Homo sapiens: one gene and its partners. The protein of the gene in region 1 interacts with the protein of each later gene in a pairwise test. Each region holds a gene or a part of one and is shown in the gene's direction. Other genes may lie near its edges.

Region 1 (9,273 bases):
GTGATCCACCCACCTCAGCCTCCCAAAGTGCTGGGATTACAGGTATGAGCCACCGCGCCCAGCCTAATGAGGTATTTTCTACCTAATGAGGTAGCACCTTCAGCTTGCCTTCATCTTTGTATGTAGTGTTTCAATTATATAATATCCCAGCTTTAAAATTTTTAATAATTTTGTGTTTATTTTCATTTGATAAAGGAACAAGGTTGACTTAAAACTCTGGTCTTAATTTATGTTAGTTTTTGTTTAGAATTTAGATTACGTATCTTTTTACACAATTAATTATGCCAACACATTTCTCTGTAGGGAAATTCGTCTGTAGGAATAACAGTTTTAACTGAAGTGGGCTGACTTGGGAGCCTTTGAGAGTTAGCGCAGTGGAGTGGAAAAACCGCTTGGAAAAAATTAGACTAAAGATACCAACATCAGAGGTTGGTGGAGAAAAACAACTGAAATCCATTCTTGGTAGTGTTCATAGCAGGCTAACCTTAACCCCCATGTGGGCTCTGGTGACCCTCTCTACTCACCACACCCACTCACTGTGGGGGAAGGGCCTGAAACTTGGTGAAAGACTAAGTTAAGAAAAAATAGGTATTACTCCTAGAGGAAGTGGGATCTGGTAAGATTTGCCAAACAACATATTTGTAGAATTTTACTTAGTAAGCTGCTTTGAGATTATTTTATCAGTAAGTGCTAAATAAAGGAAAGGGATTTTTGATTTTTGCTTTTTGAGATGGGGTCTCACTCTGTCGCCCAGGTTGGAGTGCAGTGGCTCAGTCTTGGCTCACTGCAACTTCCACCTCCTGGGTTGAAGAAATTCTCCTGCCTCAGCCTCCCGAGTAGCAGGGACTACAGGTGTGTACCACCAAGCCTGGCTAATTTTTGTAATTTTAGTAGAGACGGGGTTTCACCATGTTGGTCAGGCTGGTCTTGAACTCCTGACCTCAAATGATCCACCCGCCTTGCCTCCCAGAGTGCTGAGATTATAAGCGTGAGCCACTGTGCCTGGCCAAGGAGAGGGATTTTTTTGGGGGGTGTTTGTTATTTTAAAATAGAAATTGATGACCAGAGGGATGAAATGACTTTCCCAGGGTCCAAAGTCTTGGTGCTTGGGCTTGAACCACAACTGCTGATTGCTGGCTTGAAGTTTTTCACAGGGCCCTGTTGACTTAATTACCTTTGGCTATGTGTCCAGCAATACTTTATCTTTGCAGCATTTTGTAATGCAAAGACTGTCCCATCTGCTGTTCAGAATTCTGTGATTCCGCATTCATAGTCTAAGCTCTTATCTCTTTCTTACTTTTTGTTTGTCTATTTACAACAGCCCATAGAGCCAGTTGCATTAACATCCTTTGCCAAATAATGTTATCACTGGAAATATGAGATATGAGACCTCCTAGAAATTCCTCTGAGAGTCAAGCTTAGGTAGGATGACTTTGTGCTTTGTTTTGTCATTTCTGTAAAATAGCTTCCCTTAAAATGAAGAATATCTGACAATAAGTATAAGGAGTGAAGCAAAGTAGTGAATTCTGAGTTAGAAAAAATCAGTTATGTTTTATCTGTGTGATTGCCTTTTTTAGTATTAGTGTTCCACAATCAATTGAAGTATTTACTAAGATTGAGGGAAAGATGCATCGTATTACTTGCTTGGGTAAACCCTTCCCAAGAAGCTGTTGTCTTCTGTTTAATGCATGAGATGTTGAGTAAGCTGTGACTGGTTTGTTATGAGATAGGCCAAAAGTTTTCTTGTTTTCCTTCTTTGTTGTCTGCACTGTAGAGGTAACACACATTGTGGTATGTGTTCTATTAGAGTATGATTTAGAGCTACCACAGTGTGGTAGCTAGTGGCCACATGTGGCTCTTAAGCACTTGAAATGTGGTTAGTCCAAATTTAGATGTATTGTAAGTGTAAAATATACACCAGATATTGAAGACTTAGTATAAAAAAAATCCCACTGACACTTTAAAAAATGATTATTTTTAAATTACAAAAATTGATTGCATGTTGAGATGAAAAGATAGTTTTGATATATTGGGTTAAATAACTATGTTAATGTAAATTATCATTATTATTATTATTATTTTTGAGACAGTCTTAATATTGCCTAGGCTGGAATATGGTGGTGTGATCACAGTTCACTGTAGCCTCAAATTCCTGGGCTCAAGTGATCCTCTCGCCTCAGTCTCCTGAGTGGCTTGGACCACAGGCACACACACCACCATGGCTGGCTAATTTTTAAATTTTTGTGGAGACGGGGTGTTAGTATGTTGTCCAGTGTGGTCTCGAACTCCTGGGCTCAAGTGATCCTCTTGTGTTGGCCTCCAAAAGCACTGGGATTATAGGTGTGAGCCACTGTTCCTGGCCTAAATTAGTTTTTTTAATGTGACTACTAGGAGGTTTAATGTGTGTCTTCTATTAATTTGTGTTGGACAGCACTGAATTAGAGTATAAAATGGCTTGCCAGGATTACAATTTAATATTCTCTCACTTGTACATTATGAAATATAGAGACATATATAGTACACAAAGTACAGTTATGACAGTGTATATGGATTACTTTGGCATATTTAAATCTGTTTGCATTTTAGTAAACTAGCAAGTATTTATACCAACAAGTATTTAAAAACCATATAGGGTTTTAAACAGTTGCTTCTGGGCCGTCCCTGAGACTTAAAAAGTACAGAGCAACTGCCCCACATTTCCACTATACTGATGAGACAAGCAGGTTGAAAAGGAATCCCAAGTGACTGTGGAGTGTGTAGCACGGGCTGGGTTGGGGGAGTGATGAGGATGGGATGGGACACCAAACCACAGGTAGTTCTCCTGGGTAGGTTTCTGACAGGGCTTTGGTCAGCTCCAGGTGTTCTTCCTCTTTCTTGCTAGATGATGCATGTGTGGTATCTGACCCAAGTGTGATTTGCCTCTGAGTTCAGAATTGACTGGAAATCACTAAGTAGGTGGATTCCTGAGGCTGCAAGGGGTTAAAAATATTCATTAAGTTTTGCTGAAAAAATAGAAGGTGTGATGTGAAGCTGCAACTGCTTATAACCTTTGTTTTACGCCCAAGCACAAGCCAGTAGAGTAGTGTGGAGGAAATGTTGCCCTTTAAGATTGATGACTGCTCATTTCCTTGCTCTTCAAAGGTCTTTTTCTCATTTGGATACCCAGCTGGGAATTTCAGTTGTTTTAGAAGTTTGACTGCTAAATAAGATGTATGTGATTTTTTAGCTTTAATATTTTAAAATATCTTTATTATGTTGTTTGTTTGTTAATGTTTGAATTGGGGTAAAAAATTCATTGCATTTTGGATCACAGTTCTGACTTGATTTTTATGGATTTACTACTCAGCATCAAAAGTTACACATCTAACATTGTGAAAATCTGATTTTTTGTTTGGTTAATTGGCGATAATTCTGTAACAAACATTACATTGTATATTGGGAGGGGTTGGTTTTGAAAAGGAGTATATTCATTGGTGATAGATTTTATAGTCATAAAGCAAATAACTGTTTGCATTAGAGCATAATCAGATAATGAAGTGGTTAGTAGAAACCAATAGACTATAGATTACCAAAATTAAGATCTTGTACAACAAAATATAATTAACACCGTAACTTGAATGTAATTTTTACGGGATTGTCTTATGAATGGTAATGATTCTAAGTGGTATGTGAAATGCTGTTACTAGCACATGCCAATTGATAGAATGCTGGAAAAATCACATTTTACATTATATTTTAGATAGGATTTTTGTATGCTTGAGGGTGACTTGGCTTATGTTTTTTTTTCTTTCCTTTTAGAATATGGTTTCTAGTTTTAGGGTTTCTGAACTACAAGTATTACTAGGCTTTGCTGGACGGAATAAAAGTGGACGCAAGCATGACCTCCTGATGAGGGCGCTGCATTTATTGAAGAGCGGCTGCAGCCCTGCGGTTCAGATTAAAATCCGAGAATTGTATAGACGCCGATATCCACGAACTCTTGAAGGACTTTCTGATTTATCCACAATCAAATCATCGGTTTTCAGTTTGGATGGTGGCTCATCACCTGTAGAACCTGACTTGGCCGTGGCTGGAATCCACTCGTTGCCTTCCACTTCAGTTACACCTCACTCACCATCCTCTCCTGTTGGTTCTGTGCTGCTTCAAGATACTAAGCCCACATTTGAGATGCAGCAGCCATCTCCCCCAATTCCTCCTGTCCATCCTGATGTGCAGTTAAAAAATCTGCCCTTTTATGATGTCCTTGATGTTCTCATCAAGCCCACGAGTTTAGGTAAGTGTTTGAGAATTCAGTTTCTTCTGAACAAGATAGTAAATGAAATGAGAGACCTTCAACTATTGATTAATGATGTGCTGTTAATATAGTGAAATTGAGGCATCAATGCCGAATGTTTGAATATACGGATAAAAATTCGGCAACCATGACTGAAATCTAATAGAAGCTTTATTTCATATCATTTGATCTTTCTTCTTCTCCAATTCTTTTATTGTAAAATACACATAATATAAAATGTATCATCTTGATCATTTTAAAGTGTACAGTTGAGTGGTGTTAAGTATGTTGGTAATGTTGTGCAGCCATCACTGCCATCCATCTCCAGAACTCTTTTCATCTTCTGAAGCTGAAACTCTGTACCCATTAAACAATAGCCTTCCTCTCCTCCTCTCCCACTAGCCCCTGGCAGTTACCATTCTACTTCCACTGTCTATGATTTTGACTATTCCAAGTACCTCATGTCGTTGGAATCATACAGTATTTGTCTTGTGACTGGCTTATTTCACTAAATGTAATGTCCTCAAGGTTCTAGCATGCTGTAGTTTATGTTAGAATTTCTTTCCTTTTAAAGGCTAAATAATACAATAGTATACATTTTTAAAGAAAAATAGTAATCTTTTGCTCACTCCACTACTCATCCCTCAATCTCACTTTCAAGAGGCAACAACCTTAATTATTTTAGCTGTTTCTTCTGGTTTTACTTCTATATTTCTGTGTTATAGGATACCACATTTTGCTTATCCATTGGACACTTGGGTTGCTCCCACATTTTAGCTATTGCGAATAATTCTGTGGACACGGGTATACACGTATCTCTTTGAGACCCTGCTTTTCAATTCTTCTGGCTGTATACCCACAAGTGGAATTGCTGGATCACATAGTCATTCTGTTTTTAGTATTTTGAGGCATCACCATACTGTTTTCCGTGGCAGCTGCATTTTACATTCCCTTCAACAGTGCACAAGGGTTCCAGTTTCTCCACATCCTTAACAACACTTTTATTTTCCTTTTTTTTTTATAGTGGCCATTATAATGGGTGTCAGGTGGTATCTTATTGTAGCTTTGATTTGCATGTCTGTAATGATGGTGATATTGTGCATTTTCATGTGCTTTTTGGCCATTTATGTATCTTTCAAGAAATGTATAGCCAAGTCTCTTGCCCATTTTTGAATTGGTTTGTTTTATTGTTGTTGAGTTTTAGGAGTTCTCTGTATATTCTGGATATAATCCCTTATCAGATATATGAATGTGCAAATATTTTCTCCCACTCTGTGGTTTGCCTTTTTTACTCTGTTGATAGTGTCTTTTGATGTACAACTTAACATTTTTTCATGAAATTCCAATTTGTTTATTTTTTGTTGTTGTTGCCTATGCCTTTGGTGTCATATCCAAGAAATCATTGCTAAACTTCATGCTGTGAAGGTTTTGCCCTGTGTTTTCCTTTAAGAATTTTATAGTTTTAGGTCTTACATTTAAGCCTGATCTCTTTTGAGTTAATTTTCGTATATGGTATTAGGTGAGTGTCCAGCTTTGTTCTTTTGTTTGTGGATATCCAGTTTTTCCCCACCATTTGTTGAAAAGCCTGTCCTTTCCCTCACTGAATGATCTTAGCACCCTTGTCAAAAAGTATTTGACCATGTATGTGAGGTTTTATTTCCAGGTTCTCTGTTCCAAGGTCTCCAACCCTCAGGCCGTGGACTAGCACCAGTCCACAGCCTGTTAGAAACCAGGTCGCACAGCGGGAGGTGAGCAGCAGGAGGTGAGCAGCAGGAATTCGAGCATTACAGCCTGAGCTCCACCTCCTGTCAGATCAGCAGTGGCATTAGATTCTCATAGGTGCAGGAACCCTACTGTGAACTGTGCATGTAAGGGATCTAGATTGCATGCTCCTTACGAGAATCTAATGCCTGATGATCTGAGGTGGAACAGTTTCATCCAGAAACCATTCCCCTGGCCTGTGGGAAAATTGTCTGCCATGAAACTGGTCCTGGCCAAAAAGGTTGTGACTGTTGATTTATTCCATTGGTCTAGATGTCTGTCTTTATGCCAGTATCACAGTTTTGATTACCGTAGCTATGTAATATGTCTTGGAATCAGGAAGAGTGAATTCTCCAGCTTTAATTATTTTGTAAGATTGTTTTGGCTATTTGGGGCCCTTGAGATTCCACGTGAATTTTAGAATGAGTTTTTCTATTTCTGATAAAAAAAAAAAATTGGGATTTTGAGAGGAATTGTAGTGAATCTGTAAATTTGTTTGGGTAGTATTGATATCTTAGCAATATTAAGTCTTTCTTTTCCCACATAGGCTGATGGGGAAAAAAAAAATTAAGTCTTCCAGTACATGAACATGAGCTGTGTTTCTATTTATTTATGTGTTCTTTAATATCTTTCAGCAATGTTTTATAGTTGTTATTGTACAGGTTTTCATTTTCGTGGTTAATTTTGAAATATTTTTTCTTTTTGATACTATTGTAAAAACTACATAATTTCCTTTTCATCATATTTATTATTAGTTTATAAAAATGCAATTGATTTTTGCGTGTTGACTTTGTATTCTGCTACTTTACTGAATTCATTTATTCTAACAGGTTTTTTGTGTGAAATCTTTAAGGTTTACTGTATATAAGAGCCTACCATCTGTGAACAGGAATAATTTTACTTCTTTCTTTTCTGTTTGTATGCCTTTTATTTCTTTTTCTTGCTTAGTTGCTCTGGCTAGAACTTACTCAAGCATTCTTATGGTGTAGAAATCAGATTGCTTCCGTGTGAATGGGAATAGATACAAATCTTATTTATTGATCCTGATTTTGTATTTTGATACTTTTCATATTTTTATAAAGGGACTTACTTTCCATTTAATGTAGCTTTTAAACTGATTTTCTAAGAAATAAACCTTTTATATTTAATTTTATTTCTAAAGTGGCACAGGGAGTTTGACATGCAGTTTTTTAGCTTTTATTTAATGCCCATCAATTGCTTACAATGTGACTAACAAATTTTTGCATTGCTGTGTTATAATTCTTACTGCCTAATGAAGTTATTTACAAATATATTTGAATTTCTTTATGAAATAAATTGGGAAGTAACATTTCATAGTTGATGTGGAAGATTGCTTTCTTTTCTTTCTTGGGAAAACCCTTTTTATTTTCAGTCATGTGAAAACACTTAAACATATCAGTGTGCTTTTTTACCTGTCTTACAGGATTGTACTGCAGCCTGTCTTGGTTAAATCGGAAGGTTTTGAGGGGTAGAGCTAGTTAGTGGGGTTAGTATGGCCTGACTAGTGGCAGGCAATGTGGCTATTTTTTTTTTTTTTTCAATTTTTTGCTTTTTGCTTTATTTATGTTTTAGCAAAACTGGTGATCCAAGCAAGTGGAGTATTGCATTTTATCTCTTTATTACGTTCACTTTGAAATAAGGATTGAGTGTTTGTTCATGTTTTATTATTTGTTTGTACAAAGTCCTATGAGTAGAATTATTGGATCAAGTAAAAAGAACGTTTTAGACTCTTGATAACATATTGCCAAATTATTTTAGTGCCAGTTTAAATTCCACAAGCAAAGTGAGAGAATGCTTGTCATATCTCATTACTTTTTGCCTTTACTGGGTGCTATTGAAAACAGATCTCTGTGATTTTTAGATGAAAACTTGTATCTTGCTTAAATTTTTATTTTTAAAATTAGTAACAGGAGCAAGTATTTTATTTTATTCGATTTTATTTGTTTTTTTTTGGAGGGGGGGGACAGAGTCTTGTTCTGTCGCCCAGGATGGAGGGCGGTGGCGCTGTCTCGGCTCACTGCGGCCTCCACTTCCCCGGGTTCAAGCAGTTCTCCTCTCTCAGCCTCCCGAGTAGCTGAGGCTACAGGCATGTGCCACCACACCGGGCTAATTTTGTATTTTTAGTAGAGATGGGGTTTCGTTACGTTGGCCAGGCTGGTCTTGAACTTCTGACCTGAGGTGATCCACCCGCCTTGGCCTCCCAAAGTGCTGGGATTACAGGTGTGATCCACTGCACCTGGCCAACAAGAGCAAGTATTTTAAATGCTTATTACCCGGTTGTCTGTCTTTTATGATTTTACTTTCATCTTTAGCCTTGTTTTTAAAGAGTTGATTTATCTGGTTAACGTATTTCCCTAATTTGTTTTCTAATTCCTCCTTTATCATGGCATTTGGACAGTATCATGCACAATGTCGTGGTTCATTTATATATTCTGTCCCAGCAGTTATTATAAATTTATTACTTAAAAAAATTTTTTTTCCTTATCTATGTTGAAGGACTAGCAAATTTATTACTTTCTATTATTCTGAGAAAGATTCAGACTAGTGATATGGCTTGGGTAGCCCTGCTTCATGAGGCCCCTCAGGAATGTGGCTAAGCACAGGACAGAGAGGATAAGAGGGTCTGTAGGGTAGTGGTTACAGTGGAATGTGTTTTAGAGACATGGACAGAAGACTGGGGGGGACTAAGTGAAGATGCTGTAGTAGGCTTTTGCTCAGTGGTACTCCAAGAGGGAGACATGGGAGAGGCCTTGTCCTTTTCTCTTTCCTTACCTTCCTGCTTTTTTCACAAATAGAACTAGAAATTTTCTTACTTTGCTCTGTTCATCACAGAGTTTCTCTTTTATTAACCTCAGTAAAGTTAAATAGTATGCTCTTTATAAATTTACTAAAATAAAACTTTTCATATTTGGTGTTCAAAACTATCTCATTTGGCTTAGATAAAATAATGCCAGAGATATTTTGTTTAGAAGAGTAACTAAACTCCCTGCATTTTGGTCGTAGCTTCAGTTAGAATGCCAGAAATACACGTATCCTCATGGCTTATACACTTTCTACCCTTGAACTAAAAACAATGTTTTTCAGGAATCCTACCTATCACTGTTTTTTTTTTTTGAGACGGAGTCTCGCTCTGTCACCCAGGCTGGAGTGCAGTGGCGCGAAAAACAGACATGAGGTCAAAAATGTCATTCCAGAACCTCTTGGGATTTTGAAACCAG
Region 2 (6,947 bases), on another chromosome or scaffold:
GAGCTGGGGGAAGGGCAGCAGGCACTGGCCTGTCTTCCCTGCAGTCTTTGGGCGGCCCGGTTGCCCACTACTGTCTAATGTATGACTCATGAGTCACGAATCATTGTGAGCTGAGTGACTGCAGTAACACGTGATGTGGTGTTGCTGAAGGACAGCATGGTTGGGGAGGTGGCTGGACTTGTAGCTGGTGGTCCCAGCGGCCCTGGAAGCCCCCCCACCAGCCTCCCTCCCACCACCCTCCCAGGTGTTCCAGGAGGTGCAGGCCCTGGTCACCTCTTGCATTGATGGCTTCAATGTCTGCATCTTTGCGTACGGCCAGACGGGCGCCGGCAAGACGTACACGATGGAGGTGGGTGCTGCCCAATGGGGTGGGGGTTCACAGTGAAGCATGAAGGGAATGCGGGCTCCCTCATTGGTCTTGGGGTATTGTGCAGTGTGTGTTTTGCCTCATTTGGTCCTCACAACCCAGGAGCAGAGGCTGTAGTTATCTGTGTTAGCCCTGAGGCACCAGGCCTTAAGAGGGGGCCCCCTTGCCCAAGGGCACCCACAATGGGCCCAGCAGGACTGGGAGAGAGGCAAGGGGGGACTATCATCACAGGGATCTCGGCTTGGGGACAGAGTCTGGGGCAGGCCACCGACCTCTCTCAGGACCAGGGCTGCATTTCACCTTGAGTGTGCACTGCACACTCCTGCTTTACCGCTGCCTTGGGCCGGGCCTGGGGGATCTGGGATGAGTGGCGGGTCTCAGTCCTCAAGGAGATCCCAGGGCAAGACTGGCATATGAAGGCTGTTGTGGGGAGCCCAGCTCTTGCCGGTGGTCCCTGGGGCCAGGCCAAGGCTTCCTCTCCCTGCTCGTCACCGGCACCCTCCCAGGTGTGGTGGAGCAGGTGGCAGGCCAGGGAGAGGGGCGTTGAGACTAGGAAGGATCTTGACTGTGGGCAGAGGGCAGTGGAAAGCTAGCCCTGGCTCTGAGGGGTGCTGTGGGATTGATTCCCTAGGTCAGGAGGAGGCCAGGTGGTGTGGCGTCTGGACAGGGGAAGGGGCTAGCCAGGCCTGCTGGGCGGCCCTCTTATTTCCCATCTGGACTCTGCTGTTCCCTCGATTCTGGGACTGGTGAGACTAGTTAGTGGGGGCAGGCCAGGCCAGGCAGGAGGAGGAAGGGGATGTGTGCGGCATCCTCTGGGCTCCCCGCTCTGCTTTGGGATTGCTTAGTGTTGAGGTGACCACCAGGAACATCAGAGCGTTCATCCTCAAGTGTATCTGCTGATGCATAAGGTGTATCAGGCATCGTGCCAGGCACAGCTGTGACCCAAACAGTCCCTGCCCCCACAGAGGGCCCTCCCCACAGGGCCAACCTGGCTGTGGGGAGACAGCAGGGTCTACACAAATCAGCAAGTGTCCTGTCAGGCCAGGGAGAAAAATAAAGCCAGGAATGCGGAACTGACTAGGGGGAGGGACAGGGCATTTGGGGGTGCTGGGCGAAGGAGCAGCCTCCCTGAGGGGGCATCTTGGGAGCAGCCTCCCTGAGGGAGATGACGGAGCCGGCCAAGGGGCGGTCAGAGGAGTACCCGGGGCAGAGGGAGCTGCAGGGCTGAGGCCAAGAGGCCAGAGCATGCCAGGGGCACCTGAGGCCCAGCCAGGAGGCCCCTGTGGCCGGAATAGAGAGTGAGTGAGAGGTGCTATCAGAAGAGGGGTGAGGGCCAGGCTCCCAGGGCCTCGAGGTCCCGGGTGGGGACTCCAGGTTTCCTTCTAGAAAGGCCGGCCCACCCGTCCTTCCCCAGGACACTGGCCCGCTCCTCCTTGTGCCTCCTCTCTACCACCCACAGAGCCCAGGTCTCAGCCTCCCTGAGACTGAGCGCCTTTCTGGGCAGTGGCGGGGTCATTCATTTCCAGTGCCCCTCCCAGGTGGCCCCACAGGGCCAGGCATGCATCTGGCCCTCAGCTGCCCTGTGTGGGGTCTGGGCCAGGCCCCTCATCCCAGTGCTGCACTATAAGTCTCAGGGTAGTCCTGGCAGGGCGATGCCATTTTAATGGTGGGGAAATAGAGGTGCAGTTGCCCGCAGCTGGTGGAGGGCATTTTGGGGGACAGTGGCAGGTAGGTAAGAGCTTTGGGCAAGGAGGCTTGCTTGTGAGGGGTAGTCAAGGGGCTTTGGGGACAGACACCACACGAGCGTCTTTGGGGACAGGCCTGGCTTACTGGGGCCTTTCCTTCTGTCCCCAGGGGACCGCTGAGAACCCAGGTATCAACCAGCGGGCCCTGCAGCTGCTCTTCTCCGAGGTGCAGGAGAAGGCGTCTGACTGGGAGTACACCATCACCGTCAGCGCTGCGGAGATCTACAATGAGGTCCTCAGGTGGGAGCCCCAGGGTGTGCGGAGCAGGCCTCAGGGGCAGCTTTGGGGTCCTCCGGGGTGGTGCTGGAACGAGGTCCTCAGGTGGGACCCCCAGTATGTGGGGAGCAGGCCTCAGGGGCAGCTTTGGGATCCTCAGGGGTGGTGCTGGAGCAATGGGGGATAGGAAGTGGGGTCTTCCTGAAGGGAGTGTAGGGACCAGATGAGGCCGTCAAGGTGAAGGGAGTGTAGGGACCAGATGAGGCCGTCAAGGGACCTGGCTGCAAGTCCTGACTCAGCCCAGTGGGTTGGATGGTTCTGGGGGGAGGAGGGGCTCTCTCTGAGACCCAGGCAATCCTTGCCCCTACCTGTGGGCTACACCAGGTGGCCATGGGTGAGAGTGGGCAGCTAGGGGCCCTGCCAACAGGGGCTCATTGTATTGTGGAGTGAGATCTCCACGTCTTCAGCTGAATGCGGTGGAGGAGCTGGAGGAGGAGAGATGCACTCAGCTGATGGCTGGAGAAGGCTTCCTGGGTTGGGGGAACATTCCTGGCTGGGGGGCTGGGTGCAGTGCAAACAGCAGCTGGAAATGGGAGGAGGGGGTGACTGTCTCACCTGCCCCTCCAGGGACCTGCTAGGGAAAGAGCCTCAGGAAAAACTGGAGATCCGGCTGTGCCCAGACGGCAGTGGGCAGCTGTATGTACCAGGGCTGACTGAGTTCCAAGTGCAGAGCGTGGACGACATCAACAAGGTGTGGAGGCGGGAGCCCCTGACCACAGCCACACTGCTCTAGAGGACACAACTGGGTTTGAATGTAGGCTCTGCTGTGTCCTAAGCACGCACCCTTGGGCAAGTCCGCACGCCTCTCTGAGCCTCAGTTTCCTCATCTAAACTGCGGAGGGTGGTGCCACTCCTCATGGGTGCTTGGGGCCAGGTGACTCTGAGGACCCCATTCTCAACGCTGTGCCTCTGCCCTCCTCCCAATCCCCCAGGTGTTTGAGTTTGGCCACACTAATCGCACGACCGAGTTCACCAACCTGAACGAGCACAGCTCCCGCTCGCACGCGCTGCTCATCGTGACGGTGCGAGGCGTGGACTGCAGCACAGGCCTCCGCACCACGGGTGAGAGTGGCAGGCAGCCTGGCCTGAGGATCCCCACAACCCCAAGGGGCAGGGCAGGCCTGATCTGGTGGGTGCCTTCCCTGCAGGGAAGCTGAACCTGGTGGACTTGGCTGGCTCGGAGCGCGTGGGCAAGTCGGGGGCCGAGGGCAGCCGCCTGCGGGAGGCGCAGCACATCAACAAGTCGCTGTCGGCTCTGGGGGACGTCATTGCTGCCCTGCGCTCCCGCCAGGGCCACGTGCCCTTCCGCAACTCCAAGCTCACCTACCTGCTGCAGGATTCGCTTAGTGGTGACAGCAAGACCCTCATGGTGGTACAGGTGAGGACCTTGGGTTAGGGCGGGCCAGTCCCTAGCATGTAGGGGCTACGCTAGCAGTGAGACCCAGTCACCCCAGGCTGTGCAAATGGACCTCCCCGCCCCTAGACCTGGCCACACACACCCTGTGTAACTCCCAGTCCCTCCTCTCCACCTTTGACCACAGCACCTCTGCCATGTTGCCTGCCCTCCCACCCCATCCCTCAGGCCTCTCCAGGAAGCCTTCTGACGGCCCCAGCTGTGAGCTCCCTCTCGTGACCCTGTTGCCCCTCCAGCTGGCCCGGGTGGGCAGTGAGCTCTCGTGTCCCCTAGGTGTCCCCCGTGGAGAAGAACACTAGCGAGACGCTCTATTCCCTCAAGTTTGCTGAGAGGGTGCGCTCTGTGGAGCTGGGGCCTGGGCTACGCAGGGCAGAGCTTGGGTCCTGGTCAAGCCAGGAGCATCTAGAGGTACGGGGACTGTCACAGGCCTGGCTCAGGTGGCCCTGGGTCAGAGACTTTGGGTCATGGCAGGAGCAGGGAGCTGGGCGGGGACGTCCTGAAGCAGTGGGGGCAGGGAAGCTGCCGGAGTTGGGTGGAGCTACGGCTGGAACCCACAGCCAGCAGCCTCTTCAGTACAGGTATTTCTTCTTGGCCTCGGAGGTTCCTGTGGGGTGACGAGCTGGCCGTGGGGGTGGCACATAGTAGATGCTCAGTGGTAACTAGTTGACTTCTTTACATGAATTATCTCATTTAATTCTTGCCATAACTGAGGCTGGGGCACAAACATCATGCCCATTTTGCAGATGAGGAAACTGGGTGTTAGGAGGCAGGGCAGGGGAGTAGAGAGAAGCACAGCAGGGTGGGGAGCCAGGGCAGCCGTGGCCCCCGCCCATCCGCCCTTCCCTGCTCACAGTGGGAGCCGGCTTGTCAGACGCCACAGCCCTCGGCACGGGCCCACTCAGCCCCCAGCTCTGGGACCAGTAGCCGCCCTGGATCCATCCGGAGGAAGCTGCAGCCCTCGGGTGAGCCTGGAGTGGCAGTGTGGGTGGGGAGTCTCCCCAGGGTAATAGTCACCAGGCTGCCCTTACCTGGATGGGCTTTCTCTTTTCTTTCCTTTTTAAAAAGTTCTTACACCTTCTCCAGAACCTGTTTTACAACCTCCCCTGCCCCCAGGCAGTAGTCAGGGCAGACAGTGCTGTGTCCGTTCTGCAGGTGGGAAATGGAAGGTCTGTGGGAAGGGGGCAGTGTAAGGAGACCCCAGCCTCTCAGCCGGGGGTGCTGACTCTACCCTGGGACCCTGCTCTCTGAGCATGGGCTGGCTGAGCCTGTGCAGTAAGCCCCCTCCAGAGCAGCCCCTGCAGCCCCCTCCCTGTGCCTCAGCTGCCCCGGGGGTAGAAAGGGCCGGGCTTGCCTACCTCCTAGGTGAGGAGTGAGCCCCGCCACAGGACCGGGACCCAGGGCTCCAGCCCCTGTTTAGCCCAGATCATGGGAGGGCCTGGCCCATCCTTGAGTCCAAAGGGGTAGCAGCAGCAGGGTCTTGTGGGGTACTGGCCCAAGGCAAGCCCACCAGTGAGACGCCTGTCACTTTGATTTCAGCCTGACGGCTGGGGCTGCAGAGTCTCTAGGTGAGTGTGGGGCCTGTGGCCCAGGGCTGCCCGCCTGCCTGCCCGCAGTGGGTTGCAGGGCTGCGCTGGGACGTTCTGCTGTTCAGAGCTGGGTCTAGCCCCTGCTGTCGCTTGTCTATGTGCTTTTGCTGGGTTCCCTCCTGCTCTCGGTGGCAACTGCTGTGGGCTGCCGGTGGGCAAGTGGACAAGAGGCTGATGATCTCATGCCCCTGCAGGGAAGTCGCGGCCACTGCCTGTGTGACGGATGTGACCCCGCTGGGCCTGAAGCTGGGCCCTCACTGGCCTGTCCCTGCTGCAGCGCCAGGACCCCCGGAGGTAGAGGCGAGAGTGGAGGCTCTTCTTCTGCCCCGTCTCCCCTCAAAGATGAGAAACATGTTCAGAAGGAAACGGTGTCTCTCGGCTGTGGCTCTGAGTGCAAATTGCATGGGCGGAAAGGCGGGGGTGGCTGCTCTTCCTGGCAGGCCTGGGCCATCAGCGAACTGGGCCCCGTGAGGAGGGCGGGAGTGTGGAGGAGGGTGGGCCTCTCACCCAGGCTTTCTCGGCCCCTCTCCTCAGCTTGCAGAGCTGGCCAGCCCCCTCCTTAGGGGGTGGGCGAGGAGCCTCTGGGCAGACCCAAGAACCATGGGGACTGGGGTGGGTTGGTGGCACCAATGGCAGCCCTCCCCGCCCCTCTCCTTCAAGGAGGGTTCCCGCAGCTGGGGGGTGTGCGGAGGCGCATGGCCTCCCGCCACGGGGCCGTGCTGTGTTTATGGCTGGCAGAGGCAGCCAGCGGGTGGGGGATTCTGCTGCTCGCTCACCTGCCTGGCTCGCTGGTCTCTCGAATTTTCTTCCCTCTGAAATCCTATTTAAGAACTTTTGGAAGCTTAGCCATTTTTACTTATTAAAATAAAAGAAGCCTTTTTACACAAGTATGGTCTGAAAAAGTTGGTCTGTGAGCCCCTCTTGGTCTGATTAGGGGGACGGGGCACTGGCAGGTCTTGTGGACTCCCCCGCTGGCTGGTCACCCCACAGCCCTCTGGGATCTGTCCTCTAGGTCAGTTAGGGACATGCGTCCTTAACAAACAACTGGGGGGAGCCTGCGCTGTCCCACCCTGGGTCACTTTCTCTGTTGTTTGTGGTCACAGTCGCCTCATGCGGTACCTACCATGTGCCCACGATAACTGACCTCCCAACAGGGGCATTCCTCCATGTTACTGATGGGAAGGAAACTAAGGCTGGAGAGAGCTTCAAAGGCTATCAAAGCCTTGCCCAAACCATGCTGGGCTTCCAGGTTACTGCTGGGCACCACCCACTGCCCACTCTTTGCCCTGGCCTTTTCCCTCTTCAGTGAACTGGCCAGAGGTCCACGCCACCTTCCTCCAGTGCCGAGGACCCTGACCACCCCGGGGCGGGGCTGTACCTGGTCCCTGCCTTGGGAGCAGGAGGGGGCCCACCTGTCGCAGTGCCCACGGAGCAGGGAGCCCTTTCCCGCCAGCCAGTGCTGGGGACTCCAGCAGGGAGTGACAGCTGATCGGAGCCCTGCTCAGAGGAAGGGGCAGGTGCCCTTCTAGTCCTGCCCCTGGAGGCATCCTGGGGGTGTC
Region 3 (8,868 bases), on another chromosome or scaffold:
TTGAAGGCACGTAGGTATTTTGGTTAGTAGTAAAGACTCCAGATCCAGCAGATCCAGACTGTTTAATTTAGGTTCAAAACTGGCTCAGTACCATCCTGGCTAACACGGTGAATCCCCATCTCTACTAAAAATACAAAAATTAGCCAGACATGGTGGCAGGCACCTGTAGTCCCAGCTACTCGGGAGGCTGAGGCAGGAGAATGGAGTGAACCCGGGAGGCAGAGCTTGCAGTGAGCCGAGATCGCGCCACTGCACTCCAGCCTGGGCGACAGCACGAGACTCCATCCCAGAAAAAAAAAACTGGCTCAGTGGCCAATGGCTGTGTGGTCTTACCCAACTTACTTAACCTCTCTGTGCCTTAGCTCATTCACATATAAAATGGGATAATAGCAATATTGACTTCACAGAGTGTTATAAGTTAATCTATTTAAGTACTTCGAGCTGGATTTGACATAGGGCAAGCAAGGATATTTTTATTGTTATTATATTTGAAAAATATATTAGTTACAAACTTAGGTGAGAGACCAAGGTCTATGGTAAAGGTGATTATAAGCCTTCATACACCCCTGTTGTTCTGAAAATCTTAATTATAACAAGGCCCGGTGGAGTGGCTCACGTCTGTAATCCCAGCACTTTGGGAGGCTGAGGTGGGCGGATCACCTGAGGTGAGGTGGGCGGATCACCTGAGGTCAGGAGTTCGAGACCAGCCTCACCAAAGTGGCAAAACTATCTCTCTATTAAAATACAAAAAATAGCTGGGCATGGTGGTGGACACCTGTAATCCCAGGTACTCGGTAGGCTGAGGCAGGAGAATCACTTGAATCCAGGAGGCAGAGTTTGCAGTGAACCAAGATGGAACTATTGCTCTCCAGCCTGGCGACGGAGTGAGACTCCATCTCCAAAAAAAAATAATTAATTATAACAGCATGTCCATTCACTCTCCAAAGTGTCTAGGACTGGACAATTAATTGTCAGGCCCTCTTCTGTAGCACCCTACACTATAGCATATATGTGGATTAATATAAATACACATACAAATTTCAAGTATATATTCCATATACTTTCTATATACTTATTTTCTAAGAGGTCACATGCAAATTCAAGGCTATGTCAAAGAGTAGAGTGGCTATCTATGGAAAGGGGAGTGGAAGTGAATCATGGTAATAAAAAATAGGTGTAGATATAGATATGAATATGTAGACATACACACATATAGCGGCAAGAAAAGGGAATGTCATGGACCAATGATGACAGTGAGCCATGTAAAAAGGCTACAATTTTTGTGATTGTGTGTCCATTTTCAGGATGGGTTGTAGCTTACCTTTTTAGAAAGGCTGATGCCATAGTCATAGTGAATAAATGATTATAAAATGTGTTTCCTTTCTGGTGCACCTCTGGAGAAACTTGACACAGAGTCTCTGATGCCCAAGCTGGAGTACAGTGGTGCTATCTCGGCTCACTGCAACCTCTGCCTCCTGGGTTCAAGTAATTCTCATGCCTCAGCCTCCCAAGTAGCTGGGATTACAGGCATGCCACCACACCCAGCTAATTTTTGTATTTTTAGTAGATAATGGGGTTTCACCATGTTGCCCAGGCTGGTCAACTCCTGGCTTCAAGTGTTCCGCCAGCCTCAGCCTCCCAAAGTGCTGAGATTACAGGTGTGAGCCACCACGCCCAGTAAGACTGGCTTACTTTAATATAATTTTTACCACCCCTATGGGAAAATACAGCCAGACCCATCATAAGGTATTTTTTTTCACCAACTACAATCAGAAGCACCGATCATAAAGTATTTACTGGAGAACCTATGCCTTTGATAATAGAACCTCATGTATCCCCTGCACATTTTAGCTCTGACTGTGTAACCAGGGGTTCAACTCCAACAGATTAACCATTGCTTAAGTTGCAAAGCCTAAATTGCTCAGGCATGTCCGATGGGAAAAAGGTTTAACCTCTTAACTGTTAACACAGCCTGGCTGACTGTTTGAATTGGCATCACCTGAAACCAGTTGGAAAGGCCATGTGAGCTTGCTCCACTATCCCCAGATTGGGGAGACAGGCTTGGAACTTGTCTCCTGTCTCCCTGTCAGTTAACTATTTTTTATTTTTATTTTTATTTTTATTTTTTTCTTTGAGACAGAGTCTTGCTCTGTTGCCCAGGCTGGAGTGCAGTTGCGTGATCTCAGCTCACTGCAAACTTGGCCTTCCGGGTTCAAGTGATTCCTGCCTCAGCCTCCACAGTAGATGGGATTACAGGCGTGCACCACGATGCCTGACTAATTTTTGTATTTTTAGTAGAGAGGGAGTTTCACCATATTGGTCATCCTGGTCTGGAACTCCTGACCTTGTGATCTGCCCGCCTCGGCCTCCTAAAGTGCTGGGATTACAGGCATGAGCCATTGTGCCCGGTCCAGTTAACTCCTAATAATTTTTTATTTTTTCCCAAAATGGAGTCTTGCCCTGTCACCCAGGCTGGACTGCAGAGGTGCAATCTCAGCTCACTGCAACCTCTGCCTCCCAGGATCATGCCATTCTTCTGACTCAGCCTCCAGAGTAGCTGGGATTACAGGCATGGATCACCACACCCAGCTAATTTGTGTATTTTTAGTAGAGACAGGGTTTTCCCATGTTGTCCAGGCGGTCTCAAACCCCTGACCTTGTGATCTGACTCCCTCGGCCTCCTAAAGTGCTGGTATTATAGGCATGAGCCACCGTGCCCAGCCTTTTTTGCTTTTCTCAAACCATGGTGGTGTAGTATTGGGTTCTATGCACTTAGGAGAGTGAGCTCATCATTCAGTAACAATATGACTCAGTACCACGAGACCTTTCAAAGACTATTTCCAGTAGGTGAAGGAGGCTTTTAATGATGATTGGACCTTCATGCCCTACCATTTGGAGATTGTGTCTTTTAAAATGGCCCTAAGGGAAATCTGCCCATGAGCAGCATTGGATGAGACCATACCAGGTGACTTAAAATTAAGGATAACCAAGGAAAAAAGCCTTTCTTACAAGCAGACATCATCACATGGTAGACAGCTGTTTTAAGAAAATGGAACAAAACTCCATTCGATCTCCTTCCATTGACTGAGACTTGGTTTTGTTTTGTACTAACACAAAATGATCAAGCCTACATTTTATTTTGTTACGTACTTTCACCAGTCAAAGCAAACACTTTCTAAGGTCTCCTCTTCAAAATTTAGCCACTATCACTAACCAAAGCAATTGCTGCCTATGGAGTCATTTAGATGAATAGGAAGGATCACAACTAATAGTAGAACCTGCTCTCACACACGGTTGGGTAATATTTATGATTAAATGACTCGGCACTGAGAAGAAGCTATAGATGCAAATGGGTGGCCTATGACTATTATTGATTTCATTACTGGTAACTTATCTCTATGCATAGGAAACATTAGTGTAACTGGGTCTAATCTAGGTGGTGTCCCAGACTCTTGTGGCTCAGGCTGGAGTGCAATGGCACAATCTCAGCCCACTGCAACCTCCACCTCCCGGGTTCAAGTGATTCTACTGTCTCAGCCTCCCAAGTAGCAGGGATTACAGGCATGTGCCACTACAGCCAGCTAATTTTGTATTTTTAGTAGAGACATGGTTTCTCTGTGTTGGTCAGGCTGGTCTCCAACACCCAACCTCAGGTTATCCTCCGGCCTTGGCCTCCCAAAGTGATAGGATTACAGGCACGAGCCACCGAACCTGGATAGAGAACATTTCTGATGGCTCCATATTGATGGAACTTCAAATAACTCTCTGGTAAATTATTTTCTATAATACCCTTAAATAAAAAATGGAGAAGCTGAGATCCAGATCAATGTAGACTTTGGTACAGAGTTGGTGGTACCAGGGCTGCCATATCCAGTTTACACCCCAACCTGATATATCAGCAAATCTCCTGGAGTAAGGAAAATATTTCTGAGGAGGGGTTTCACATGAAATTCAGAAAATTCCTGTGTTTGAAGCAGTCCAAATGACATTTTGTGGCAACAAAATATATGGTCTACTTAACAGAGAAGGAGACTGTGTAAGAAAAAAAGAAAAAAGATGTTTATCCTGAAATGAGCAAAGCATTGGGAATGGATGTGAGATTATTTTGGGAGAAAAATAGAAGATGAAGGTTTTGAAAGGAAAAATAAGGAGGATTATATAAATTGTTTTGAAAGGCTCATCCTTGGTCCTAATAATCAAAACCAAAGGGGCATCAGTGAAATATTGGATAGATTCCTCCTCCACCCCCTCAGTAACCCCCAACATGTTTACCAAGTCTTGGTTCACTCCCAGGATCCCATTAAAACACCAAGCTCAACCAAGCCCATCCTCTACCCTCACTTCCTTTTGCAATTTTGACATGATTTTATTACAGGACCATCAGATTCCTATGCCTGCTGCACAGTAGCTTACCAATATTTTGAGACAGCAGAGTTTGCAGCAGAGAGTTTAATGATCACAGGGTGGCTAAATGAGAAGCTAGGAGGAGATCCTCAAATTCATCTCCCCAAGGAGGAGATCCACTGAGGGTTTCCAGTGGATCCTGGATAGCAAGGGGCTGGAAAGTTGATATAGAGTTAAGAGGGATGAAGTCATCAGGATGTCAAAACTGCATTCTTTGGTGCGTTGGTGCCTTGTAGGGCCCTTCAGATCAGCTGGCATCAGTACTTTCACTGACATGCAGAACGTAAGAATATCTCAAATGAAAAAGTTAATGTTTTACAAGGCTTAAATTGTTGTCTGCAGGGCAGTTAAGGGGAACTGTAATCTAAGGTCTAAATGATTTGGGGACAGTAGGCTGCCAGCAACCATGAGGAAGAAGGTCAGAGAGCAAGCTGACCTCATGGTGAATGCTGAATGCGCTGCAAGCTTGGTTTATTTTTGTTTCTCCCCCTCCCTTCTTCACTGATTAAATTTATAAAGTTTATAGGTATCGTTTCAATTTCTTCCAAAGAAGCCTTAACCTAAGCACTGAGACCACTCACGCCCTGAGTGGCACCTCTCTTCCACCAGCACGAGTGAAGAAACTGCTACCTTAGGTGATATAAAACCCACAAGACCATTCCATACATGGAGATCTTTATTCTTATTTTGTAGGGATGACTCCGTTTTTATAAAGTTGTTTTAACTAGAAAGCATTTTTATAATTTTGATGTGGCCAAAGATCTCCCCACAACACTACTTTCAGGTTTTATTTTTCTGTCTAATGTCCGGAACAGATCAACCCCTTCCCTGCCTCACACTCAGGACCTGAAGGCGACATAGCAGTAAAATTCCATCAGTGTTTGTGGATTTCATGAATGAATGCATTTTTTTTTTGACAAAATCTCCCTCCGTCACCCAGTCAGGAGGGCAATGGTGTAATCTTGGCTCACTGCAAACTCAGCCTCCAGGGTTCAAGGGATTCTCCCACCTCAGCCACATGAGTAGCTGGACTACAGGCAGCCACCATCGTGCCTGGCTAACTTTTCTATTTTTGTAGAGACAGGGTTTCACCATGTGGGCCAGGCGGGTCTTGAACTCCTGACATCAGGTGATCCACCTACCTTGGCCTCCTAAAGTGCTGGGATTACAGGTGTGAGCCACCTCATCTGGCCTTGAGTGAATGAATTCTTGACTTCCACTCTATCCCTAACGCTGTCAATTTCTTAATTCATGAAATGAATATGCATATGTGATATGAATGGATACCTGGTTCAATCCATTAGTCTTCGGACAGCCAAAAACCCAATCAGGATTAACTGAGTGGAGCTTCAGAAATGCAATCAGATATCGCTTTTTGATTGGAAGCTAGCAGCGGATATGTGGAGGGGCGTGGGTGGGAGTTGTGATTAGAAAGGTCAATAAAAGCTTCTAAAGACCCACAGGACAGACTCAAAGTCTTCAAGCCTGGAGTTCCTGCTTGGCTCTTCCTGAGGTCTGAGCTACAACTACAACCAGAGGTCTAAACTACAACCAGATCTGGTAAGTCACTAATTTCTGGAAGGACACTCCCATCTGACCTACAGTCAGCCGGTCTAGAACGGTGACAGTGCAGCCTACGACGGCACAGAACTATATCCTGTCTTTTTTTCTTTTTTTCATATGAACACTTTGAAGCTTTGATTTTTTTTCTAAATGCAATTTTGTCTTTATTTCAAAAATGTTGTTGTGCTTTTCTTTACATCATTTCAGAATTCTTGTTGGGAGCCATTTTGTGAAGAGACGAAGACTGAGCTGTTTTGGCTGCATTTCTGGCCTCGAGCCGCAGTCAGTTTCTCCCCGTAGAACCCGGCAGTAGGAGACTTAGAATCGAATCTCTTCTCCCTCCCGCCTCCTGTTTTTGGCTTTTTGAGAAACCTTATCATCCAACACAATGGCCAGCAACGTTACCAACAAGATGGATCCTCACTCCATGAACTCCCGTGTGTTCATTGGGAATCTCAACACTCTTGTTGTCAAGAAATCGGATGTGGAGGCGATCTTTTCCAAGTATGGCAAAATTGCGGGCTGCTCTGTTCATAAGGGCTTTGCCTTCGTTCAATATGATAAGGAGAAAAATGCCCGGGCTGCTGTAGCAGGAGAGGATGGCAGAATGATTGCTAGCCAGGTTGTAGATATTAACCTGGCTGCGGAGCCAAAAGTGAACCGAGGAAACGCAGGTGTGAAACGATCAGCAGCGGAGATGTACGGCTCCTCTTTTGACTTGGACTATGGCTTTCAACGGGATTATTATGATGGAATGTACAGTTTCCCAGCACGTGTACCTCCTCCTCCTCCCATTGCTCTGGCTGTAGTGCCCTCGAAACGTCAACGTCTATCAGGAAACACCTCACGAAGGGGCAAAAGTGGCTTCAATTCTAAGAGTGGAAAGCGGGGATCTTCCAAGTCTGGAAAGTTGAAAGGTGATGACCTTCAGGCCATTAAGCAGGAGTTGACCCAGATAAAACAGAAAGTGGATTCTCTCCTGGAAAACCTGGAAAAAATTGAAAAGGAACAGAGCAAACAAGAGGTAGAGGTGAAAAATGCTAAGTCAGAAGAGGAGCAGAGCAGTAGCTCCATGAAGAAAGATGAGACTCATGTGAAGATGGAGTCTGAGGGGGGTGCAGAAGACTCTGCTGAGGAGGGGGACCCACTGGATGATGATGTTAATGAAGATCAGGGGGATGACCAGCTGGAGTTGATCAAGGATGATGAAAAAGAGGCTGAGGAAGGAGAGGATGACAGAGACAGCACCAATGGCCAGGATGACTCTTAAGCACATAGTGGGGTTGAGAAATCTTATCCCATTGTTTCTTTACCTAGGAGCTTGTCTAACAACAAATTTTTCACCAGATCCTCTCCCTTAGTATCTTCAGCACATGCTTACTGTTCTCCCCATCTTTGTCCTTCCCATGTTCATTAATTCATATTGCCCTGTGCCTAGTCCCATTTTCACTTCCCTTGACACCCCTAGTAGTTGTCCTAAGTCTTACCCTGTAATTTTTCCTTTTAATTTTGACACCTCTTTATGACTTAACAGTAAAAAGGATGTATGGTTTTTATCAACTGTCTCCAAAATAATTTCTTATTTTGTTTATTTAGTTTATTTATTTGTTAGTTTAGTTTAGTTTTGTTTATTTGTTATTTAGTTTACTGAGAATGATGTTTTCCAATTTCATCCATGTCCCTACAAAGGACATGAACTCATCATTTTTTATGGCTGCATAGTATTCCATGGTGTATATGTGCCACATTTTCTTAATCCAGTCTATCATTGTTGGACATTTGGGTTGGTTCCAAGTCTTTCCTATTGTCAATAATGCCGCAATAAACATACATGTGCATGTGTCTTTATAGCAGCATGATTTATAGTCCTTTGGGTATATACCCAGTAATGGGATGGCTGGGTCAAATGGTATTTCCAGTTCTAGATCCCTGAGGAATCGCCACACTGACTTCCACAATGGTTGAACTAGTTTACAGTCCCACCAACAGTGTAAAAGTGTTCCTATTTCTCCACATCCTCTTCAGCACCTGTTGTTTCCTGACTTTTTAATGATTGCCATTCTAACTGGTGTGAGATGGTATCTCATTGTGGTTTTGATTTGCATTTCTCTGATGGCCAGTGATGATGAGCATTTTTTCATGTGTTTTTTGGCTGCATAAATGTCTTCTTTTAAGAAGTGTCTGTTCATGTCCTTTGCCCACTTTTTGATGGGGTTGTTTGTTTTTTTCTTGTAAATTTGTTTGAGTTCATTGTAGATTCTGGATATTAGCCCTTTGTCAGATGAGTAGGTTGTGAAAATTTTCTCCCATTTTGTAGGTTGCCTGTTCACTCTGATGGTAGTTTCTTTTGCTGTGCAGAAGCTCTTTAGTTTAATTAGATCCCATTTGTCAATTTTGTCTTTTGTTGCAAGTTGGAATGCTTTTATAAGAAAGGTTGAAAGAAGGGGATGGGACTCCTCCTATCAGTTGTTTTTTTTTTAATTTTCTTTTGTTTTATCCTGGCAAGGCTCTAATAGAGTTGAGCTTTTTTGTTTTTGTTTTTTCCATTGGAAGGGACAATACAGAGGTTACAATCATTGACTTTAGATGACAACATGACAGGCAAAAATATTTTCCTTGCAAGACAACCAGCAAAACTTCACGATCAGAATCAAATCAGTGTCCTTCTCACTGTCACTGGGTGAAGCCTTCATCAGTACTTGAAGAGTCTCAGGCACTCATGAAGTCAAGATCAGATTCTTTACTCAGGGACAGGATGTAAGCCAATCATAAGACCTTCCACAGATGATCAATTTGGAAGTCTACCTAATGTGACCTGCAGGTTTTCACTGGCAATATGCAGGTGCAGATATGACAAAGAATAATCCTGACCTTCATATCACCCCTAGCTGTTGAGGATTG
Region 4 (5,140 bases), on another chromosome or scaffold:
GCACATGTGAAATCACAGCTTCTGTTTGGGAACAAAAGAAAGGCAGTTAACTTTCCCTTTAGTATAGTAAGTTTGGGGTCCCAAGAATCTATTTTTCTTTCACAGTTGTCACATATACTCAAAAAAAAAAAAAAAAAAGAAAAAGAAAAAAAAAAGAGAAAGAACAAACAAACCAGCACCTGTGAAACTTCACCTCTGAAACTCACTCTCTCACTCTCAAGCCACTGCTTCTGCCTTCAGTTTTAAAAAGTCTATTTGAAGCTCAAAAGCCTAGGCCAGGTGTGGTGGCTCACGCCTGTAATCCTAGCACTTTGGGAGGCCGAGGCGGGCAGATCCCTTAAGGTCAGGAGTTCGAGACCAGCCTGGCCAACCCGGTGAAACCCTTGTCTCTACTAAAAATACAAAAATTAGCCAGAAATCACTTGAACCTGGGAGGCGGAGGTTGCAGTCAGTCGAGATTGTGCCACTGCACTGCAGCCTGGGTAACAAAGAGAGACTCCATCTCAAAAAGAAAAAAAAAAAAGAAAAAGAAACTCAAAGCCAGGACATGACAGTCTTAGTTCAAGCTTCTATCACAAAGTCCCACAGACTGGATGTGTCTTATTAACAATAAAAATTTGTTTCTCATGGTTCTGGAGGCTGGGAGCCTGAGATCAGTGTGTCGGCATGGTCAGGTGGCAGTGAGGGCTCTCTTTCAGGTTGCGGATGGCCACCACCTTCTTGTGTATCCTCACACGGTGGAAAGAGCGCTCTCTGGGGTTGCTTTATAAGGGCCTCAGTCACATTCATGAGGCTCTACCCTCATGACTAATTGCCTCCCACTTCCCAATACCATTACCTTCCTACTTTGGTTTCAACATGTAAATTGGGGGGCAGGGGACACAAATGTTCAGTCCATGGCAGTGACCCTGTGACCCCCCTTCTCTGCTACATCACCTCTTTCTTTCCTTTTTTTTTTTTTTTTTTTTTGAGATGGAGTCTCACTCTGTCACCCAGGCTGAAGTGCAATGGCGCCATCTCGGCTCACTGCAACATCTGCCTCCTAGGTTCAAGTGATTCTCCTGCCTCAGCCTCCCAAGTAGCTGGGATTACAAGCACCTGCCACCACACCTGGCTAATTTGTGTATTTTTAGTGAGATGGGGGTTCGTCATGTTGGCCAAGCTGGTCTCAAACTCCTGACCTCAGGTGACCCACCTGCCTCAGCCTCCCAAAGTGCTGGGATTACAGGAATGAGCCATCGCACCCGGCCTTTTTGAGACGGAGTTTCGCTCTTGTCGTCCAGACTGGAGTGCAATGGCATGATAGCTCACTGCAACCTCTGCCTCCCAGGTTCAAGCCATTCTCCTGCCTCAGCCTCCCAAGTAGCTGGGATTGCAGGCGTGTGCCACCACGCCCAGCTAATTTTGTATTTTTAGTAGAGATGAGGTTTCACGATGTTGGCCAGGTTGGTCTCGAGCTCCTGACCTCAAGTGATCCACCCTCCTTGGCCTCCCAAAGTGCTGGGATTATAGGCATGAGCCACCATGCCCAGCCAACCTCTTTCTTCCTTGACTGCATGGGTGATGTAGGAGTCCTGGGATTCCTGGGAAACAGGTATATCACACTATTATCCCAGTGTTCGTCAGCACTGGAACCATTCTAGCAGAAGTAGCACCCCAGGAATGACTGACACCGTCCCAACAGCATGGACTAAGCCTGTTCCTGTTGAAGGAGCAGAAAGCTGGTGGTGTAGGAGGGACTGGGGATGGCCAGAGAGGAAGAAAGGGCAGGAGAGAAGGTATGTCGCAAGTGGGGAGTGAGGAAACCGGGTTCATAAGGACAGAAAGGGCGAAGTGGGACTTTCTAAAAATCATCATTTCAAGTCTCAGGACTTCTTTGACTATGGATTCGTTTTATTTCTGAGTTCAACATAATAGTACTTCCAAATTTGTTTAAGCCAACAGGAAAGAAGAAAAAGAAGTAATGTGTTTGTCTTTTTTATCTAACCAGAGCACGATTGAAGACATAAAAGTGAAACACACAGCAAAGGCAGAAAACATGATCCAACTTCAGTTCAGAATGGAGCAGATGGTTTTTTGTCAAGATCAGATTTACAGTGTTGTTCTGAAGAAAGTCCGAGAAGAGATTTTTAACCCTCTGGGGACGCCTTCACAGAATATGAAGTTGAACTCTCATTTTCCCAGTAATGAGTCTTCGGTTTCCTCCTTTACTGAAATAGGCATCCACCTGAATGCCTACTTCTTGGTGAGTTCCCGGCGGGGCAGGAGCCGTGCTCTCTGAAATTTGCAGAGCTGAGTAGGGGCTATGCTAACCTAGAGAGGCTTTGCTGAGGGAAGGAGGGAGGGACCACTACAATGTATTAAGCCCTTCTGTATTATGATAAACTACTTATATATTTTCTCATTTATAATTTTACATGAACCCTATGAAGGCACTTTTAATTAATTTGCCCACAATCAATTTTTAAAGTGGTAGAGCGTGTACTCAAAATTAATTCTGACCCCAAAATTCCTTATATTTCTTATGCGGTCCATGAATTACAAAATTACTATGATCAGAATACAGCAAAATACAACAAACGTCAACGATTGTGACTATAAACTAGCTTTCCTTGGTGTTCAGAAGGCACTAACATGCCACACTTGCCAGCCCCACAAGATAGGAATGAAATTTCCTTTCCCTAGATTTTGTGACCCAGTGAACTTTTTGGCCTCTGACTGTCTATCCAATATGCAAGTATCACTGTTCCCAGGAAGAAAAAATAGCTTTTAAACTGCAAAGACACCCACCTCCCGAAGCCCTTTCTCAATCAGAATAGAGTGGTTTCCCAGCCATGGGCACCTGGCTGCCAGGCATACTGGCTATGCCTATGAAGAAGGAATGAGGGGAGGATTCGAAACGGCCCTGGTGCATACCCAGAAGGGAGCCAGGGGAGTCCTGGGCTGGGGGAGTTTCTCCAGCAGGGAGGAGCTGTGGGGATGCCCAGAGGTGATATGGGCTTGCTAGCCTACCAGGGGGCTTCTTAGTGCTAGAGGGGATGCCTGGAAGTAAAGAGGGGTCAGCGCAAATAGAACCTTCACGGGGCTTGATGCTGACCACCGGAGTGGAGGTGGGCGAGACCACCAGGGCTTCGCCAGGCAACCATGTGCGCATCCAGGAACTCCATGCCTTCTCTCTGCAACCACAGGCCTTGGGCTGAGACCACTCCAGCAAACCCTTCTTTCTCCCTCTTCCAGGAAACCAGCAAACGTCTCGCCAACCAGATCCCATTTATAATTCAGTATTTTATGCTCCGAGAGAATGGTGACTCCTTGCAGAAAGCCATGATGCAGATACTACAGGAAAAAAATCGCTATTCCTGGCTGCTTCAAGAGCAGAGTGAGACCGCTACCAAGAGAAGAATCCTTAAGGAGAGAATTTACCGGCTCACTCAGGCGCGACACGCACTCTGTCAATTCTCCAGCAAAGAGATCCACTGAAGGGCGGCGATGCCTGTGGTTGTTTTCTTGTGCGTACTCATTCATTCTAAGGGGAGTCGGTGCAGGATGCCGCTTCTGCTTTGGGGCCAAACTCTTCTGTCACTATCAGTGTCCATCTCTACTGTACTCCCTCAGCATCAGAGCATGCATCAGGGGTCCACACAGGCTCAGCTCTCTCCACCACCCAGCTCTTCCCTGACCTTCACGAAGGGATGGCTCTCCAGTCCTTGGGTCCCGTAGCACACAGTTACAGTGTCCTAAGATACTGCTATCATTCTTCGCTAATTTGTATTTGTATTCCCTTCCCCCTACAAGATTATGAGACCCCAGAGGGGGAAGGTCTGGGTCAAATTCTTCTTTTGTATGTCCAGTCTCCTGCACAGCACCTGCAGCATTGTAACTGCTTAATAAATGACATCTCACTGAACGAATGAGTGCTGTGTAAGTGATGGAGATACCTGAGGCTATTGCTCAAGCCCAGGCCTTGGACATTTAGTGACTGTTAGCCGGTCCCTTTCAGATCCAGTGGCCATGCCCCCTGCTTCCCATGGTTCACTGTCATTGTGTTTCCCAGCCTCTCCACTCCCCCGCCAGAAAGGAGCCTGAGTGATTCTCTTTTCTTCTTGTTTCCCTGATTATGATGAGCTTCCATTGTTCTGTTAAGTCTTGAAGAGGAATTTAATAAAGCAAAGAAACTTTTTAAAAACGTAGCCAGGTTCAGTGACTCATACCTGTAATCCCAGTGACTCTGGAGACTGAAGCAGAAGGATCACTTGAGCCCAGGAGTTCAAGACCAGACTGGGCAACACAGGGAGACCCTGTCTCTAAAAAAATTTGTTTGTAAGTAGCCAGACATGGTGGTGCACACCTGTAGTCCCAGCCACTCAGGTGGCTGGAGCAGGAGGATCCCTTGAGCCCAGGATTTTGAGGCTGCAGTGAGCCATGACTGCACCATGTACTACAGCCTGGGTGACAGAGTGAGAGTGAGACTCTGTCTCTGAATACACACACACACACACACACACATACACAGAGAGAGAGAGAGAGAACTTCACACCAGTGATCATCATTATGGGTAATTTTCTTTTCTTCTTCATGTTTTCCTGTATGTTTCAAATGATGAACATATAGATTCCTTAATAAAAAGGCAATAGAATAAATATCATTGCTGATTTGTTTTAAAACCCAAGTTTGAGATGGAAAGAGTGCCTCAAAAACATTCAGCTTTGTTCAGGGGTACAGACGAGAAAGATTACGTGAATTTCTTTCTTCATTTGCTGTAAAAGATGTTGGAAAAGAAAGTTCAAGTCAAAAATCACAGCTTGACCAGCATCCCCAAGAGCTCTCTTGCAGAGGTCTCTTTGATTTGTGTTCAAATGCTAGTGTATTAGTCTGCTATAGCTGCCATAACAAATATCACATGCTGGGTGGCTTAAGCTACAGAAATTTATTTCCTCCCACCTCCAGAGGCTGGAAGTGTCTGAGATCAAAGTGTTGCTAGTTTGGTTTCTCCTGAGGTTTCTCTCCTTGGCTTGCAGACTGCCACCTTCTCACCAGGCCTATGCTTGGCCTCTCTCTTTTCTCTTACAAGGATCCCAGTCCTCTTGAATCAGGTCCCCACCCTTAGGGCTTCATTTAAGCTTGATCACCTCTTTAAAGA

Evidence for each region.
Region 2: the proteins of PIAS2 (region 1) and KIFC3 interact in binary tests that used the Homo sapiens proteins (3 or more experiments, as listed by UniProt).
Region 3: the proteins of PIAS2 (region 1) and HNRNPCL1 interact in binary tests that used the Homo sapiens proteins (3 or more experiments, as listed by UniProt).
Region 4: the proteins of PIAS2 (region 1) and MX2 interact in binary tests that used the Homo sapiens proteins (3 or more experiments, as listed by UniProt).

What each region holds. Positions count from the first base shown.
Region 1 is NC_000018.10:46,885,580-46,894,852, reverse strand, and holds part of PIAS2 (E3 SUMO-protein ligase PIAS2), read left to right. Parts: exon of another isoform or gene 1-42; intron 43-1,321; exon of another isoform or gene 1,322-1,422; intron 1,423-3,798; coding exon 3,799-4,273; intron 4,274-9,273. UniProt on the Homo sapiens protein: Functions as an E3-type small ubiquitin-like modifier (SUMO) ligase, stabilizing the interaction between UBE2I and the substrate, and as a SUMO-tethering factor.
Region 2 is NC_000016.10:57,757,545-57,764,491, reverse strand, and holds the end of KIFC3 (kinesin-like protein KIFC3), read left to right. Parts: intron 1-244; coding exon 245-349; intron 350-2,221; coding exon 2,222-2,352; intron 2,353-2,955; coding exon 2,956-3,079; exon of another isoform or gene 3,080-3,177; intron 3,178-3,320; coding exon 3,321-3,450; intron 3,451-3,536; coding exon 3,537-3,766; intron 3,767-4,075; coding exon 4,076-4,210; intron 4,211-4,655; coding exon 4,656-4,764; intron 4,765-5,338; coding exon 5,339-5,343; 3' UTR 5,344-5,367; intron 5,368-5,582; coding exon of another isoform or gene 5,583-5,608; 3' UTR 5,609-6,275; downstream 6,276-6,947. UniProt on the Homo sapiens protein: Minus-end microtubule-dependent motor protein. Involved in apically targeted transport. Required for zonula adherens maintenance.
Region 3 is NC_000001.11:12,845,777-12,854,644, reverse strand, and holds HNRNPCL1 (heterogeneous nuclear ribonucleoprotein C-like 1), read left to right. Parts: upstream 1-5,924; 5' UTR 5,925-5,964; intron 5,965-6,174; 5' UTR 6,175-6,355; coding exon 6,356-7,237; 3' UTR 7,238-7,268; downstream 7,269-8,868. UniProt on the Homo sapiens protein: May play a role in nucleosome assembly by neutralizing basic proteins such as A and B core hnRNPs.
Region 4 is NC_000021.9:41,404,754-41,409,893, forward strand, and holds the end of MX2 (interferon-induced GTP-binding protein Mx2), read left to right. Parts: intron 1-1,990; coding exon 1,991-2,245; intron 2,246-3,237; coding exon 3,238-3,480; 3' UTR 3,481-4,640; downstream 4,641-5,140.